Regions from separate parts of the Homo sapiens genome. Here region 2 is linked to region 1. A link means that fine-mapping ties the variant in region 1 to the expression of a gene that starts in the linked region. Tissue or cell type: whole blood. Region 1 holds a variant in brackets; the other region holds the start of a gene. All regions are shown on one strand. Distances are between the middles of the regions.

The links. PIP is the estimated chance that this variant, and not a neighbour inherited with it, causes the effect.
Region 2: it holds the start of LINC01772, and the variant in region 1 is fine-mapped to the expression of LINC01772 in whole blood (INTERVAL, PIP above 0.99).

The regions. Positions count from the first base shown.
Region 1 is chr1:16,236,497-16,244,597 of GRCh38, forward strand. CPLANE2 (ciliogenesis and planar polarity effector complex subunit 2) reads right to left here and starts at 687. Exons shown (of 5, transcript NM_030907.4): 1 at 135-687. The coding sequence starts at 246. It also overlaps the pseudogene MT1XP1. RefSeq lists an enhancer at 180-724 and a silencer at 565-744. The variant T/C (reference allele first, on the strand shown) is at 3,541.
Region 2 is chr1:16,455,971-16,464,071 of GRCh38, forward strand. LINC01772 (long intergenic non-protein coding RNA 1772) reads left to right here and starts at 4,978. Exons shown (of 2, transcript NR_147210.1): 1 at 4,978-7,317. NECAP2 (NECAP endocytosis associated 2) reads left to right here. Exons shown (of 8, transcript NM_018090.5): 8 at 2,872-4,108. The coding sequence ends at 2,920.

The DNA.
Region 1 (8,101 bases):
GAAGACTGCTGAAGACTGCAGTGGAGCAGGCCCTCACTGCCCTGCCTCTCTGCTCTCCTCAGGGAGCAACAGGTGACACTCTTCTCCCCAGGGAAAGACAAGTGGCGGGCTAGAGGAAAGGGGGAGGCACTTACCAAACACCCGCCGGCGGTTCTTGCGCAGAATGCAAGCCAGGTACTCCTTGCCCTCGGCACTCTCGTGCCAGTTTGGGACAACCACCGAACCGGGCACGGGAGGTCTGGCCATGGCTGGGCACCGCGACGGGGTAGGGAGGTGACAGAATGCTGAGAGCAGGGAGTGGGAAGGGGAGTGACAGTACCAAGCCGGGCCTGTGATCCCTCTTAACTGCCCTCTGACTCTCCCGGGGGGCCCCAGAAAGTGCAGTCCCTCAGCCGCCTCTCTCCTTCGCAATGCTCCCTGGGGATAGTCATCCCATTACTGCCCATGGAGGGTATTCACACAGCCCCTCTCCCCTTGTCACCTCCGGGGGTCAGACAGCCCCGCTTCTCCTCTACCTTCTAGATCCCGACTCCCAGGGCTACCTAGCCCTCCCCGTCAGCAGTCCCGGCGGCGAACCGACCTGGGTGCCGAAGGCCCCTTTAAACGCCCACCCGCACTCCCGCCGCCCCAGCCCGCCGGGCCCACTTCCGCCCCGCCTGCGTCCGCCTTCTGCGCGTGCTGGCAGCTCCGGCGCAGGTGCGCGCGGCGCATGTGCGGAGGTTGTTGCCATGGAGACGCCGGAGGTTGGGTTGGGCGGGTTCCGGGAGGCGTTCGTCCCTCCTACAACGTCCGCAGCCTGCGCCGCGCGGTGGCTCTGGACTAGGCCTTTTCCTCTGGGTTGTGGATCCTCTTCTCTATGACTCCGTCCGATCCCTAGTCTTTCTTCCAAAACATCATGAAACCCCCCCTCCAGGAGCCTTTCATGCTTCTCTGTGTCTCAGTTTCCTCTTCTATAACGTGGACGTAACATGTTATTCCCTCCATAGCAGTGCTCCATATGTTTAGTTATGATTGTTGCTATTATTAATATTATTGCTCTATTAATCCTGCTTGGCAGGACCTCTAGATGACTTAAACATCTCTGGCTTCACTGATGGGGACACACACCAGCTCAGAGAGGTCAAGGGACTTGGCTCAAGTTTTAAAAAATGAGTCAGAGGCCCGCTGGATTGTATTTTTCATTCATTCATTCATTCAACAAATACTGAGCACCTAGCTGGGAATACAGTGGCCAACAAGAAGTCCCTGCTCTCCTGGAGCTGACTTTTCAGCTCTGAAACTCTGAGCTCCTCTCCACCGTTCCAGCACTGGACACCAGGCCTGTTACCCAGAAGGTGGGTGCTCAGTAAATGCCCACTGGTTGGAAAGAGTGCAGGTGGGTCATTACTGAGAGTTTGTCTATTACATTTAATTTTTACCATTATCTTTCCGCAATGCCTTCAAGTAGGGCAAATCACTGTTTTGAAAGGAATAATTTAGGAGTTAAGCTTTACCTAAGGCCACCCAAGTGCCAGACAGTGGGGACTTTACAGGGGTCACCTGATTTAATTCTATAAACAAACCTGTGTAAATAGTATTACCCTCTTGTACTGACGAAGACTCTCAGAAACATAACGTGACTTGTCTGAGGTCACACCGCACAGCTAGTCAGTGTGAAACCGACTCAGAACCCACAGCTGGCTGGGTGTGGTGGCTCACGCCTGTAATCCCAGCACTTTGGGAAGCTGAGGCGGGCAGATTGCTTAAGCTCAGGAGTTTGAGACCAACCTGGGCAACATAGTAAGACCCTGCCTCTACAAAAAAAAAAATACAAAAATTAGCCGGGCACAGTAGTGCACGCCTGTAGTCCCAGCTACTTGGAGGCTGAGATGAGAGGATTGCTTGAGCCCGGGAAATGGAGGTTGCAGTGAGCCGAGATCATGCCACTGCACTTCAGCCTGAGTGACAGAGCTAGGCCCTGTCAAAAAAAAAAAAAAAAAAAAAAAAAGAACCCACACTTACCTGACTCTAAAGTACTTATCTGTTCTGCCAGTTTGGGTTTTGTGTTTTTAAAACTTTGCCCCTAGCCACTAGGAGGGCTGTTCCTAGGGAAGCAGAAAGCAGCCAGAGGACTACGAACTCACAGATTTTTAAGGCCCATTATGTCTAAGAGAGGGGATGAGGATGTGTAAGACAAGGTGCTTTCTCTCAACTTGCTCACGCTGTGGCTAGGCAGAAAAACCAGATGAATAACCATTCCTACAGGATTCTGCAGGTGGAATCCTTTGCCCATACTCCCAGGTCACATGGTTCCCATTCCTGCAGCTGTCACATCTGCCCAGTCAGGGAGATTCACAGCTGTCCAGAGCTCTCTCCATGGGCCAGGAGTCACTCAGTGGCAGGGCTCTGATCTGAATTATTTCTGGATTTCCAGACTTCACATCCACCCATCTTTGGCTCGTGGAGGGCTCAGTGAGCGTGTGAGAAAATGAAGCAACTTGGCAGAATGAACGTGCCTGTTAATCTGCAACCCAGAGAAGATGTAAAGTCCTCTTGGGGCCATGTGCGGTGGCTCACGCCTGTAATCCCAGCACTTTGGGAGGCTGAAGCTGGTGGACCACTTGAGGTCAGGAGTTTGAGACCAGCCTGGGTAACATGGCAAAACCTTATCCCTAAAAATATACAAAAAAATGGCTGGGCGCGGTGGCTCACGCCTGTAATCCCAGCACTTTGGGAGGCTGAGGCGGGCAAATCACCCGAGGTCAGGAGTTCAAGACCAGCCTGGCCAACATGGTGAACCCTGTCTCTACTAAAAATACAAAAATTATCTGGCTGTGATGGCAGGCGCCTGTAATCCCAGCTACTCTGGAGGTTGAGGCAGAAGAATCGCTTGAACCTGGGAGGTGGAGGTTGCAGTGAGCAGAATCATATCACTGCACTCCAGCCTGGGTGACAGAGCTGAATAAATAAAATTATGTATTCAGTGGAAGGCTGATCAAGGACTCAAAAGAATGCAATCTTTTGTCTCCTATCTACTTTTTTTTTTTTTGAGACAGAGTCTCACTCTGTCGCCCAGGCTGGAGTGCAGTGGCACAATCTCGGCTCACTGCAACCTCTGCCTCTGAGGTTCAAGTGATTCCCCTGCCTCAGCCTCCCAGGTAGCTGGGACTATAGGCATGCCCCACCATGTCCGGCTAATTTTTGTTGTTGTTGTATTTTAGTAGAGACGGGGTTTCACCATGTTGGCCAGGATGGTCTGGATCTCCTGACCTCATGATCCGCCCACCTCAGCCTTCCAAAGTGCTGGGATTATAGGCATGAGCCACTGCACCTGGCCTTGTCTCTTATGTATTTCTAACCTGGAAGCCCCTGCTTCAAGCTGTCCTGTCTTACCAGACCAAACCAATGTACATCTTACACATATTGATTGAGGTCTCATGTCTCCCTAAAACTTAAATGCAAACTGTACCCCTGACCACCTTGGGTATATGTCTCAGGATTTCCTGAGGCTGTCACGGGCACATCCTTAACCTTGGCAAAATAAACTTTCTAAATTGACTG[T/C]GACCTGTCTCAGATATTTGGGGTTCACACATCCAACCCCGACATTCTGTGTCAGGGGCTGGGTAGGTCTGTGAGCCTGCAGATTTGACAAAAGCACTAGGCAGTTCTGAAGTTGGGGTCTATATGAGTCAGCCCAGGCTGCTGTAACAAAAATACCACAGTCTGGGTACTCTAAACAACAGAAATTTATTTTCTCATAGTTCTAGAGGCTGGAAGTCCAAGATCAAGGTGCCAGCAGAGTTGGTTTCTGGGTGGGGCCTCTCTTCCTGGCTTACAGATGGCCTCTTCTCTGTGCTTATACATGTCTGGTGTCTCTTCCTCTGTTACAAATAGGACATTAGTCCTACTGGATTAGGGCTCCATGCTTATGGTCTCATTTAACCTTGATTACCTTTTTCTTTTATTTTTTGAGACAGGGCCTCACTCTGTCACCCAGGCTAGAGGGCAGTGGTGTGATCTCAGCTCACTGCAGCCACGACCTCCTCAGGCTCAAGCAATCCTCCTGCCTCAGCCCCGAGGGGAGCTAGGACTACAGGTGCATATCAGCACGCCTGGCTAATTTTTTTTTTTTTTGTATTTTTGTTTGTTTGTTTGAGACAAAGTCTCGCTCTTGTGCCCCAGGCTGGAGTGCAATGGCGCGATCTTTGCTCACTGCAACCTCCATCTCCCAGGTTCAAGTGATTCTCCTGCCTCAGCCTCCCAAGTAGCTGGGATTACAGGCGCCTGCCACCACACCCAGCTAATTTTTGTATTTTTAGTAGAGACGGGGTTCTACCATGTTGGCCAGGCTGGTCTTGAACTCCTGACCTCGGGTGATCCGCCCGCCTTGGCCTCCCAAAGTGCTGGGATTACAGGCATTAGCCACCATGCCCGGACTTTTTCTTTTGTATTTTTTTAGAGGTACGGTTTTGCCTTGTTGCCCAGGCTTGTCTCAAACTCCTGGCCTCAAGTGATCTGCCTGCCTTGGCCTCTGAAAGTGCTGGGATTACAGTCATCAGTCACCATGCTCACCCTTCATTACCTTTTTTTTTTTTTTTTTTTTTAGTCTAGATGAATTTATTGCCATTCACATATTTCATAGAAAAAAAGATGTAGCAAATGGGTCAGGGTTGTACCAAAAAAATCCAGGTTTATAAGGTTGCTCTATTTACATCTGAGAGCAGGGCTGTCCTGGCATCAGGCACAGCAGCTGCAGTTGTCCGACGTCCCTTTGCAGATGCAGCCCTGGGCACACTTGGCACAGCCCACAGGGCAGCAGGAGCAGCAGCTCTTCTTGCAGGAGGTGCATGTGCACTCTTTTCATTTGCAGGAGCCGGCACAGGCGCAGGAACCATCAGGCGAGCAGGAGCAGTTGGGGTCCATTTAGAGGCAGGGAGAAGCAGGAGTTCCTGATCAAGAGGCAAACACTCAGCGGGACAGATGAAAAGCGTGCCTTAATTACCTCTTTAAAGGACCTATTTCCAAATATGGTCACATTGGGGGCTAGGGCTTCAATGTATGGATTTGGGTGGAGCAGGGCATAATTCAGTCCATAACAGGGTCCACAGACCTCATGTAAACACTGCTGCTGGGCAAAGGAGGCCAGCTGACTGTTGGGACCTGAAAGTGACATGGTTAGAACTGCGTTTCAGAAGGACGCTTGTGGACCGTGTTGGTCTATGAGTTCTGCTCTCCTGTGCCCCTCTGACCACTAAACTATGTGTCCCCCTAAGCCAGCTGCTTCTCCTTTCAGGGCCTCAAGCAAAACATGTAGAACATCTCCCTAAGGACTCTTCTAGTCTAGAGCCCTCTGATTTTTTTTTTTTTTTTTTTTGAGACAGAGCCTTGCTCTGTCGCCAGGCTGGAGTGCAGTGGCATGATCTTGGCTCACCGCAACTTCCACCTCCCAGGTTCAAGCAGGTCTCCTGCCTCAGCCTCCCAAGTAGCTGGGACTACAGGCGCATGCCACCACGCCTAGCTAATTTTTGTATTTTTAGTAGAGACAAGGTTTCACCATGTTGGCCAGGACGGTCTCAATCTCCTGACCTCGTGATCTGCCCGCCTCGGCCTCCCAAAGTGCTGGGATTACAGGCATGAGCCACTGTGCCCGGCCTAGAGCCCTGTGATTAATCCACTCATTTCTTCTTGGTTTGGTCTCCCCACAAATATTTATTAAAAACCTCTTGGACAAGGTCCCCACAAGACCTTGAGAGGACTCCACAAGGCAGGGACACAGTCACCAACTTGACAGAGTGGATGGGAGGCCCAGGTGGGCAGACACACAGGCCGAGCTGGGGTGAGAATGAGGCATGGAGAGCCCTGCCTGAGGATCCTGGGTAGGTGTGGGGCGGGAGGTCAGCTAGGACACCAGGCTTAAAATCCTCTTGGCTCCTAGAATAACACCCACCCCTCCCTCAGCATGGCCTGGCACCAGGAGTGCTCCACTCCCACCTGGAATGCTTGCTCTGCCTCCTAGCAGTCCTTCCACCAGGCTCACTGGCTTTAGGGATTCTCCAAGCTGGAGCCACAGCCAGTTAATCAAGTCAGGTCAAGGGCACCAGCCTCGCCACCAAGCTCAGTGGTCAATTCTCCATCCTCAGATCACCTGACCCTGGGATCATTCCCAGGTGACTGGATGGATGGTGGTGCCCCTAACTGTGGGGGAAGCATGGAGGAAGCGCACAGGGTCAGAGGAGGAGCCCCTGGGGAGTGAGGGAGGGTGGGGGGCTGCCCAGAGAGGACACACTCACAGCAGATGTTGGAATGTAAAGCGCAGGTGAGCGGCCTGAGTGAAGCTGGACATTACTGACGGCGGAGGGACCAAGCCTGAAGCAATGGGTGTAGACAGATGAGAGGTCCGGATGCTGTGGACAGACAGCAGAGCCTTGGATGCCACCTGGGCAATGACAACGACGAGGTCAGACCCAGGAGAGGCAGAAGAACCGGAAACCCCCTCCTCCAGCCCGCCCTGAGGCTCATGTTTGGTGTGCAGGGAGGCTTGCCCAAATCCCAGGGAAGCATGGCTGGGGAGCGATGCTACTCCTTGGACGCCATCTCTTGTGGGCCTTCTGCTGCAGAGAGCACTCTGCTCTGTGCCTCTGCCGTGGCCCCAGCCATGCGGTCCTAAGTGTTGTCTTCCCACTACGGATTCCACTCGGGAGCTCCTTTCCCATTACATCTGAGGGGATGACCTCTGGCCATCAAGTCCACATGGGTCACCCTCCATTGTCCTCAGCCCTGACCACTGGCTGCTGCGGCTTATAGGCTTATCAAGACCCTGCATTACTGACTGCCAGAAGCGAGGCCTAGACCCCACCCATCTGGGATGCCCCAGATAGGTTCTATCCTCATCTGCCCCCCTGCCACAGGTTAGCAGGACGAGGCCAAGTGCCATGATCTGAACGTCCTGCCAGATTCACATGTTGAAGTTTAATCACCACTGTGACAGTATTAACAGGTGGGGCCTTCAGGGAATGACTAAGTCATGAGGGCAGAGCCCTCACGATGGGATTAGTGATGTTATGGAAAGGCGTGAGGGGCCAGTTCATCCCATCCACGGTGTGAAGACACAGCCTTCACGATGGAGCAGCAACAAGGCAATGTCTTGGAAGTGGAGACTGGGCCCTCACCAGACACCAAGCTTGATGGTGCCTTGAGCTTGGACTTCTAAGCCTCCAGAAATGTGGGAAATACATTTCTGTTGCTTATAAATCACTCAGTCTGTGGTATGGTATATAGCAGCACAAGGGAACTAAGACACCAAAGCAAAGAGAAGGCTAACTTCTTGGCTTCTGGCTTCCCGAACAACTGTCCCAGCCCTGGGTGGCTGCACTGGTTGCAGATGGTTCTACTGACTCCATCCTCTTTGGTATCTTTTTAGTATGATACCTGGATTGTCTTTTGACCTTAGAATCTCAGGATTTGTCATTTTTGTTTAGCCCATGTGACACCTCCCTGGTTTGTGATTAGGCTGTAAGCTCCTTCATGGGTGGGCCTCTTTTGTGTCTTGTGTGTGTCCCAGTGCCTCGGGGGTCACAGATGCTCAGGGAATGCTTGCTGAGAGTGAATAGTCTCCCAGTCAGTTCCAGGTGTTCTAGGCCTTGTCAACGGGCCACAGCCCATGTCCTCGGGCAGGAGCATCCTCCCTCTCCCCAGGCTTCTGCTGGAAAGGAGCCCTCCTTCTCTTCCTTGCAGTAGGTGGGCAGACAGGCTCCCTGGTGGGTGCAGAACACACTCTGCTAGGACTTTTTGGCATTTACTTAAGACATGGGCTTGGCTTTGTGCATTCCGACAGGCTCTGGACCCAGAGCCCAGCCCCATGAGAAAGATGGTAATTTTCCCACAGCTGAGGGCTGGGGAAGGAAAGGCAGGTAGGCCAGCTGGAGGATGGTACTTGAAACAAGGCAGGGGCCAGGGACGGGTGCCCCCCAGGCTTAACTGACAGAGGGAGGGGAGAAACAGGCAAGCATTTTCTTACTCCTGCCCATCTGCTTTCTTTCTCAAGACTGCCTCCGACAGATCGCCCAAGCACACTTGAAGCCTTTCACAGGGTGCCCTCAGGTGGCCTTTTGGGGAATCACAC
Region 2 (8,101 bases), 220 kb after region 1:
GCCTTCTGGTGTTAGGATTAGGAGTAACAGTTTTAATTTGGATGTTTTCTTTTCTTTTTTTTTTTTTTTTGAGAGGGAGTTTTGCTCTTGTTGCCCAGGCTGGAGTGCAATGGCATGATCTTGGCTCGCTGCAACCTCTGCCTCCCAGGTTCAAGCTATTCTCCTGCCTCAGCCTCCTGAGTAGCTGGGATTACAGGCACCTGCCACCACGCCTGGCTAATTTTTTATATTTTTAGTAGAGATGGGGTTTTACCATGTTCGTCAGGGTTGTCTTGAACTCCTGACCTCAGGCGATCCACCTGCCTCGTCCTCCCAAAGTACTGGGATTACAGGCATGAGCCACCGCGCCTGGCCTGATTTGGATGTTTTCAAGCTAGCCAGAGGACAGAGCCCCAGCGTGCCTGCTTTGGGTGGCACACGTCTTTCCGTGGAGGTTTTGCTGCTTTCCAGTGCTATATAGCCTGGGGCAACCCTTTGCAAATCTGGGCCTTTAAACCGCCTTCCCAAGTGCTTTGGCTTGTCCCCAGTACCTCCTTCTTCTATACCCCATCCCCCACCTTCCCCAAAATAGTGGACTGAGAGTTCAGACCCAGGCTCCAGCCTCAGCCCATCCTCATAGAACGCCTGAGGCTAGGTGGCTTGTCTTCTCTGATTCCATAAGATCTCAAGACTTTACTTGGGGCCAGGGTGAAAAGATACTAAATTCCTACTGCACTATTATTTACATGGACAGATTCTAGGACAGGGGTCAGCACACATTTTCTTTTTCTTTTCATGTTTTGAGACAGGGTCTCTCTCTGTCACCCAGGCTGGAGTGCAGTGGCACTATCACGGCTTACTGCAACCACATTCTCCCATGTTGCTGGCTCTACAGGTGCACATCACCATGCCAGCTATTTTTTGTATTTTTTCATAGATACGGGGTTTTGCCATGTTGCGCAGGCTGGCCTTGAACTCCTGGGCTCAAGCGATCTGCCTGCCTCGGCCTCCCAGAGTGCTGGGATTATAGGCACGAGCCAGTGTGCCCAGCCACATTTTCTGTAAAGGACTAGATAGCAAATAGTTTAGACTATTCAGGCCGTGTGGTCTTCGTTCTAGCTACTCAGTTCTGCTCTTGTTGCACAAAAGCAGCCACAGACAATATGTAAATAAATCAGCATGGCTGTGTGCCAGTAAAATTTTATTTACAAAAATAGAGGCATGGGCTGGGCGCGGTGGCTCATGCCTGTAATCCCAGCACTTTGGGATTCCCAGGCAGGCGGATCACCTGAGGTCAGGAGTTCAAGACCAGCCTGGCCAACATGGTCAAACCCCATCTCTACTAAATACACAAAAATTAGTTGGGCGTGGTGGGGTGGTGCCTGTAATCCCAGCTACTTGGGAGGCTGAGGCACGAGAATTGCTTGAACCCGGGAGATTGCAGTCAGCTGACATCATGCCACTCTAGTCCAGCCTGGGTCACAAGAGCAAGACTCCATCTCAAAAAACAAATAAACAAACAAAAAAAACAGAGGCGTGAAATGAGGACTGTAACCCTTTTCCTGTTTGCCCTGAGAAAACTTGCCAGTGGCACTTCAGACTGCAGCGTTGACCCTGAGATAACTTTGCCACAAAATGTATTGCTTTTATATTATTTTTGCATCGCTCTAGTATATCAGCTTTGGAACAAAAGACATTCTATTTATAGCATTCTGTTTTTAATAGTGGTATTTCCATTTACAAAATATAGTAATTCTGTTTTTTTTTTTTTTTTTTTTTTGAGACAAGGTTTCACTCTGGTTGCCTAGGCTGGAGTGCAGTGGCGTGATGTCGGCTCACTGCATCCTTGACCTTCCAGGCTCAGGTGATTATCCCTTAGCCTCCTGAGTAGCTGGGACTACAGGCAATTGCCACCACACCCGGCTAATTTTTTGTATTTTTAGTAGAGGCGGGGTTTTGCTATGTTGCCCAGGCTGGTCTGGAACTCCTGGAATCCAGCAGTCCGCCTACCTCAGCCTCCCAGAGTGCTGGGATTACAGGCGTGAACTACCATGCCTGGCCCAAAATATAGTAATTATTGATTACTGAAAAAGTCAAATCCTAGAAAACGCAGCATTCTTACATGTGATGTTAACATCGTTCTTGAACAGTTTTTAGCCTAAGATTCATTTGAGGAGTCTGATTTTTCCAAAATAGTTCTGATTATTCAGATGATTCTGAAATAACTCCAAGAACAGTTTTTATATTTTATTTTCACGTTGAAAATCAGTCAGATTTGCTTCAGCCTCAAAGAGCATGTTTATGTAAAATTAAATGAGGGCTGGCAGTGAGCTATATTTTTTCTACATGGGAAAGGGGTTAAGACTCTTCGGCCAGGCATGTTGGCTCACGCCTGTAATCCCAGCACTTTGGGAGGCCAAAGCAGGCAGATCACTTGAGGCCAGGAGTTCGAGACCAGCCTGGGCAACATGGCAAAACCCTGTGTCTACTAAAAGAAATACAAAAATTAACCGGTCATGTAGTTCCAGCTACTAGGGAGGCTGAGGTAGGAGGATCGCTTGAGCTCAAGAGGTTGAGGCTATAGTTGGCCTTGAGTGTGCCACTGCATTCCAGCCTGGGCGACAGTGAGACCCTGTCTCAAAAAAAAAACAAAACAAAAAACAAAACCACAAACAAAAAACTTTGGTAAATACAGTTACATTAACTATTTAAAAAAAAAAAACCATCGAGGGCCAGATTTGGTCTCTGTGCCAGAGTTTGCTGACTGCTGCTCTAGAACATTTAGGAACTGGCTTCTTAGAGCTTTTTCTGTCCAGAGAGAAACCAACTTTTATCTGCTTTGTATTTTCAAAGATCTGAACTCCCCCACCCTTCCCTGTCTTCTCTTTACAGATCAACTTCCAGCCAGACCCAGCCAGGCACAGGCTGGGTCCAGTTCTGACCTGAGCACGGTTTTTCCTCATGTGACTTCTGGGAAGGCGCTCCCTCATCTGGGCCAAAGGAAGGAGGACGAAGCCCTCCTCAGCTGGCCTGTGTTTGGGGCATGAATCTCTCCTCTCCTCCTTGTCTGGCTCTGTTGACAAACCGGGCATGTTTGGCAGTAAATTGGCACCGTGTCACACTGTTTCCTGGGATTCAAGTATGCAACCAGAACACAGGAGAAGAAAAGCTCCAGGATCCCTGTCCCCATCTGTCCTCTTGATGTGAGAGAGACTCTGAGACTTCTTCCATCGCAATGACCTGTATTAAACACAAGCCCCCCAAGCAAAAGAAGAGGTTGAGTTTGCTGCCAGGATTCAGATCAGCCCTTCCCAGGGTCTGCAGGTGTCACATGATCACAGTTCAGCGGGAGGCTTTCCGTACCCACACTGGCTGTAGCCACTTCAGTCCATCTGCCCTCCAGAGGAGGGGTTTCTTCCTGATTTTTAGCAGGTTTAGAGGCTGCAGCTTGAGCTACAATCAGGAGGGAAATTGGAAGGATTAGCAGCTTTTAAAAATGTTTAAATATTTTGCTTTGCTAATGTGCTGATCCGCACTAACTCATCTTTGCAAAAGGAACTGCTCCCTCGGCGTGCCCCAGCTGGGGCCTCTGAAGGGATTCCTCACTGTGGGCAGCTGCCCTGAGCTTCAGGCAGCAGTGTTTATCTCTGGCCAGTTGTCTGGTTTCCATGTATTCTAGGCCAGGTAGGCAACACAGAGCCAAGGCGGGTGCTGGAAGCCAGACGGAACAGTGTTGGGGCAGGAAGGTGGATGCTGTTGTCATGGAGCTGTGGGAGTTGGCACTCTGTCTGCTGGTGGCCCTCTCGGCTCACATGTTCACAGTGCAGCTCCTGGCAGACTTGGGTTTTCTCTTTGGTGGTTTCTAAAGTGCCTTATCTGCAAACAACTTCTTTTCTCCTTCAGGAACTGTGAATGGCTAGAAGAAGGAGCTCAGTAAACTAGAAGTCCAGGGTTGCTTGGTTTACTGGTTTATAAGAAATCTGAAAGCACCTCTGACATTCCTTTTATTAACTCACCTCTCAGTTGAAAGATTTCTTCTTTGAAAGGTCAAGACCGTGAACTGAAAAAAGTGTTGGCCTTTTTGCGGGACCAGATTTTTAAGATAAAATAAATATTTTTACTTCTGTCATTGTATGTGAAAGATGAATGTGTTTCTGGCCGCGTGGCTGTTAAACTCTTCAGGGTGCCACAGCTAGACTCACGGCCACTTCTCTCACCACTGACCAAGTGTCCAGATTGAAAGTTCAGGGCTGGGGTGTGAGGCTGGCCAAAGTGAGGAAATGCAACCTTGTTGTCTAAGGCAATCGGTACCTTCTCTCCTGTGTTCTCTAGGATAGTACAGTCTTTTCATCATCCTTTGGTTGATGTGAAAGTAGTTGCTTGAATCACTTTGTGTGGGGCTTAATTCTCTTGTGGCGTCTCATGATACAGGCCGTTCTAGAGAGCCTGGCCCCTTGCTTTCCGTCTTCCACCAAACCTACCGGCAGAGCATCTCCCTAAGTAGTAAAGGGGTGCAGATACCCAGAGGTCAAAAGTAAAATTAAGAGGCCGGGTGCAGTGGCTCACGCCTGTAATCCCAGCACTTTGAGAGGCCAAGACGGGAGGATCATTTGAGGCTGGGAGTTTGGGACCAGCCTGGGCAACATAGTAAGATGCATTTCTTTCCTTTTTTTTGAGACACAGTCTCAGTCTGTTGCCCTGGCTGGAGTGCAGTGGAGCAATCTTGGTCACTACAACCTCCGCCTCCCAGGTTAAAGTGATTCTCCTACCTCAACCTTTCCAGTAGCTGAGATTACAGGCACCTACCACACCGAGCTAATTTTTGTATTTTTTCAGTAGAGATGGGGTTTCACCATGCTGGCCAGGCTGGTCTCAAACTCCTGACCTCAAGTTATCTGCCCGCCTTGGCCTCCCAAAGTGCTGGGATTATAGGCGTGAGCCACGGCACCCGGCTGTTAGACCCCATTTCTTAAAAAAAAAAAAAAAAAAAAAAATTAGTGTGGTGGTGGTGCATGCTTGGAATCCTAACTACTTGCGAGGCTGAGGTGGGAGAATTGCTTGAGCCCAGGAGTTTGAGGCTGCAGTGAGCTATGATCACGGCCTCGCACTCCAGTCTAGGCAGCAGTGAGACCCTAGAGAATTCTCTAAAAGAATTAAAAATGAAAAAAAGCCACAACACTTCTTTTGCCTGAGGATTCTGTAAGAAGCAGTTTTTATTGTTATGGAAATAGCCACTCTGATTAAGAAACTGTAGAGAGGAGAAAGAAAATGAAAATTGAAGATTCTCTTGCCCATTGAATTAAGGGTAAGGAGATTGCATTAAAGGATCTTCGGGAGCAGTAACTTTTTTATGTCGATTTCACATAGCATTACTTCACATCGAGTCAGTTTTAAGTACTTGGAGGGTGGAAATCAGAAAGCTTAGATGTAGAGGAAGCTTTATTAGAAGTGTGTACCATGGCTGGGTGTGGTGGCTCATGCCCACAATCCCAGCACTTTGGGAGGCCGAAGTGGGTGGCTTACTTGAGGTTAGGAGTTCGAGACCAGCCTGGCGAACATGGTGAAACCCCGTCTACTAAAAATACAACAATTAGCCAGGCATGGTGGCGCACGCCTGTAATCCCAGCTACTTGAGAAGCTGAGGCATGAGAATTGCCTCCAGGAAGTGGAGGTTGCAGTGAGCTGAGATCATGCCACTGTACTCTAGCCTGGGCAACAGAGCAAGACTGTCTCAAAAGGAAAAAAAAAAAAAGTATGTACCATTGAAGATCAGCACTTGGATTGTGGAGACAGACCTGGCCTTAGGATCTAGGCTATCCCCTGGTTAGACGTGTGGCCACAGGCTGTTCCTTCACCTGAGCGTCACTCGGATGAGGCACTAGCAGATGCACATTGCATTGTTTGACCTTAATGACCTTTCTCTGGAGTCAGGTAAGTACCCAGAACAGTTCATCATGGTAGGGAGGAGGAGGTGGCACAGCTGATGACACAGCCCTCAGGAATCTAGCCTGAAAAGCACCTTGTGGGGTCTGGGGCCAGGAGCAAGGGACAGCTTGATGCTGTCCATCACTAACTGGAATCCCAGCTGGAAAAAACTCATTACAGGACCAGAATCTCCAGGAAAACTCAATCCCAAACCAGGCATCACTTCAATTACACCCCTGACTGGAGTTTACAAACTGGTGGGTGGATGGTAGAAGATGGCTGCTTTCTTGGGGGGTATGCTAGACCTCACTTGCCCTCTGCACAACAGAATTTGGATGCACTGGGAGGTGTGGCAGATAGACTCCCAGGTGGTCACTGTGATCCCCACCTGCTGTTCACAGCCTTATGTACTCCCTGCCCCTTGAGATGGCCTAGACCTGTGACTGCTAACCAGTAGAGTGCCACAAAGGTGACAAGATGTTATTTTCATGGTTGCCTTATGTAAGACTGCAACATCTGCCTTGCTGAGAAATTCTCTTGCTGGCTTTGAAGAAGGAAGCTGTCATGTTGTGTGAGCTGCCCTTGGGAGAGGGTCAGGTGGCTAGGAACTGAGGTAGCCTCTGACAGCCAACAAGAAACTGAAGCTCAGTCCAGCAGTCTGCAAGAAAGCAAATGCTGCCAGCAACCACACAAGCTTGGAGGCTGATCACTCCCAGGTAAGCCTTCAGGTGAGACCCCAGGCCTGACCAACACTGACTGCAGCCTTGCAGAGGACCAGCTAAGCTGTGCCCAGACTGTCCCATAGGAACAGATGGTAAATGTATTGTGTTAAGTCGCTAAGTTTCTGGTAAGGTTATGCAGCAATAGATAACCAACACAAAGGTTAGCAAAGTGTGTTTGAGGTGGGAATCAGTGTGGAAAAGAGAGAATCTGGATAGACTTAATAGCTGTAGGGCCTTGGGAGGTCCCTTATGATGCTCCTTTGGGCCTTCCTGTTGCCTTTAAGTAATGCTTATTGTTTATTGCTAAAGTAATGCTTAACTCTCTGCTAGGCACTATTCTATGCACTTATAAAACTCATTGCATCATCTCTACAACCCCATGAGGTAAGGACTTGTTTTTTTTGTGTTTTGAGACAGTCTCGCTCTGTGGCCCAGGCTGGAATGCAGTGGCATGATCTCAGCTCACTGCAACCTCTGCCTCCTGCGTTCAAGCAGTTCTTCTGCCTCAGCCTCCGAGTAGTTGTGATTACAGACGTGTGCCAGTACTTCCGGCTAATTTTTTTGATTTTTAGTAGAGACGGGGTTTCATCATGTTGGCCAGGCTGGTCTCAAATTCCTGACCTCAAGTGATCAGCCTGCCTTGGCCTCCTAAAATGCTGGGATTACAAGTGTGAGCCACCGCACCTGGCCAGTAAGTACTTGTTTTAGTCTATTTGGGACTATGACAGAATAACATAGCCTGGGTAGTTTATAAACAAAAGAAATTTTTTGCTCACAGTTCTGGAGGCTGGGAAGTCCAAGGCACCAGCAGATTCGGTGTCTGGTGAGGCCGTCTTTTTGCTGTAACCTCACATGGTAGAAGGGGCAATAGAGTACTCTGGGGACTTTTTTTTTTTTTTTTTTTTTTTTTTAAGAGATGGAGTCTTGCTATATTGACCAGGCTGATCTCAAACTCCTGGCCTCAAGTGATCCTCCTGCTTTGGCCGCCCAAAGTGCTGGGCTTAAAGGCATGAGCCACCACATGGGAATGGCACTGCCTTTTTTTTTTTTAAAGATAGTTTTGCTCTTATTGCCCAGGCTGGAGTGTGATCTTGGCTCACTATAACCTCTGCCTGTTGGGTTCAAGCAATTCTCCTGCCTTAGCCTCCCAAGTAGCTGGGACTACAGGCACATGCCACCACGCCCAGCTAATTTTTGTATTTTTAGTCAAGATGGTGTTTTGCCTTATTGGCCAGGCTGGTCTCAAACTCCTGACCTCATGATCCACCTGCCTCAGCCTCCCAAAGTGCTGGGATTATAGGCGTGAGCCACCACACCTGGCTGGGGCTTCCTTATAAGGGCAATACTGTTTGTGAGGGCTCTACGCTTATGACATAATTACCTTCCAAAGAACTCACCTCCAAATACCATCATACTAGGGGTTAGGTTTCAGTATGAATTTGGAGGTGGGGGTGGACACAAATGTTTATAGCAGT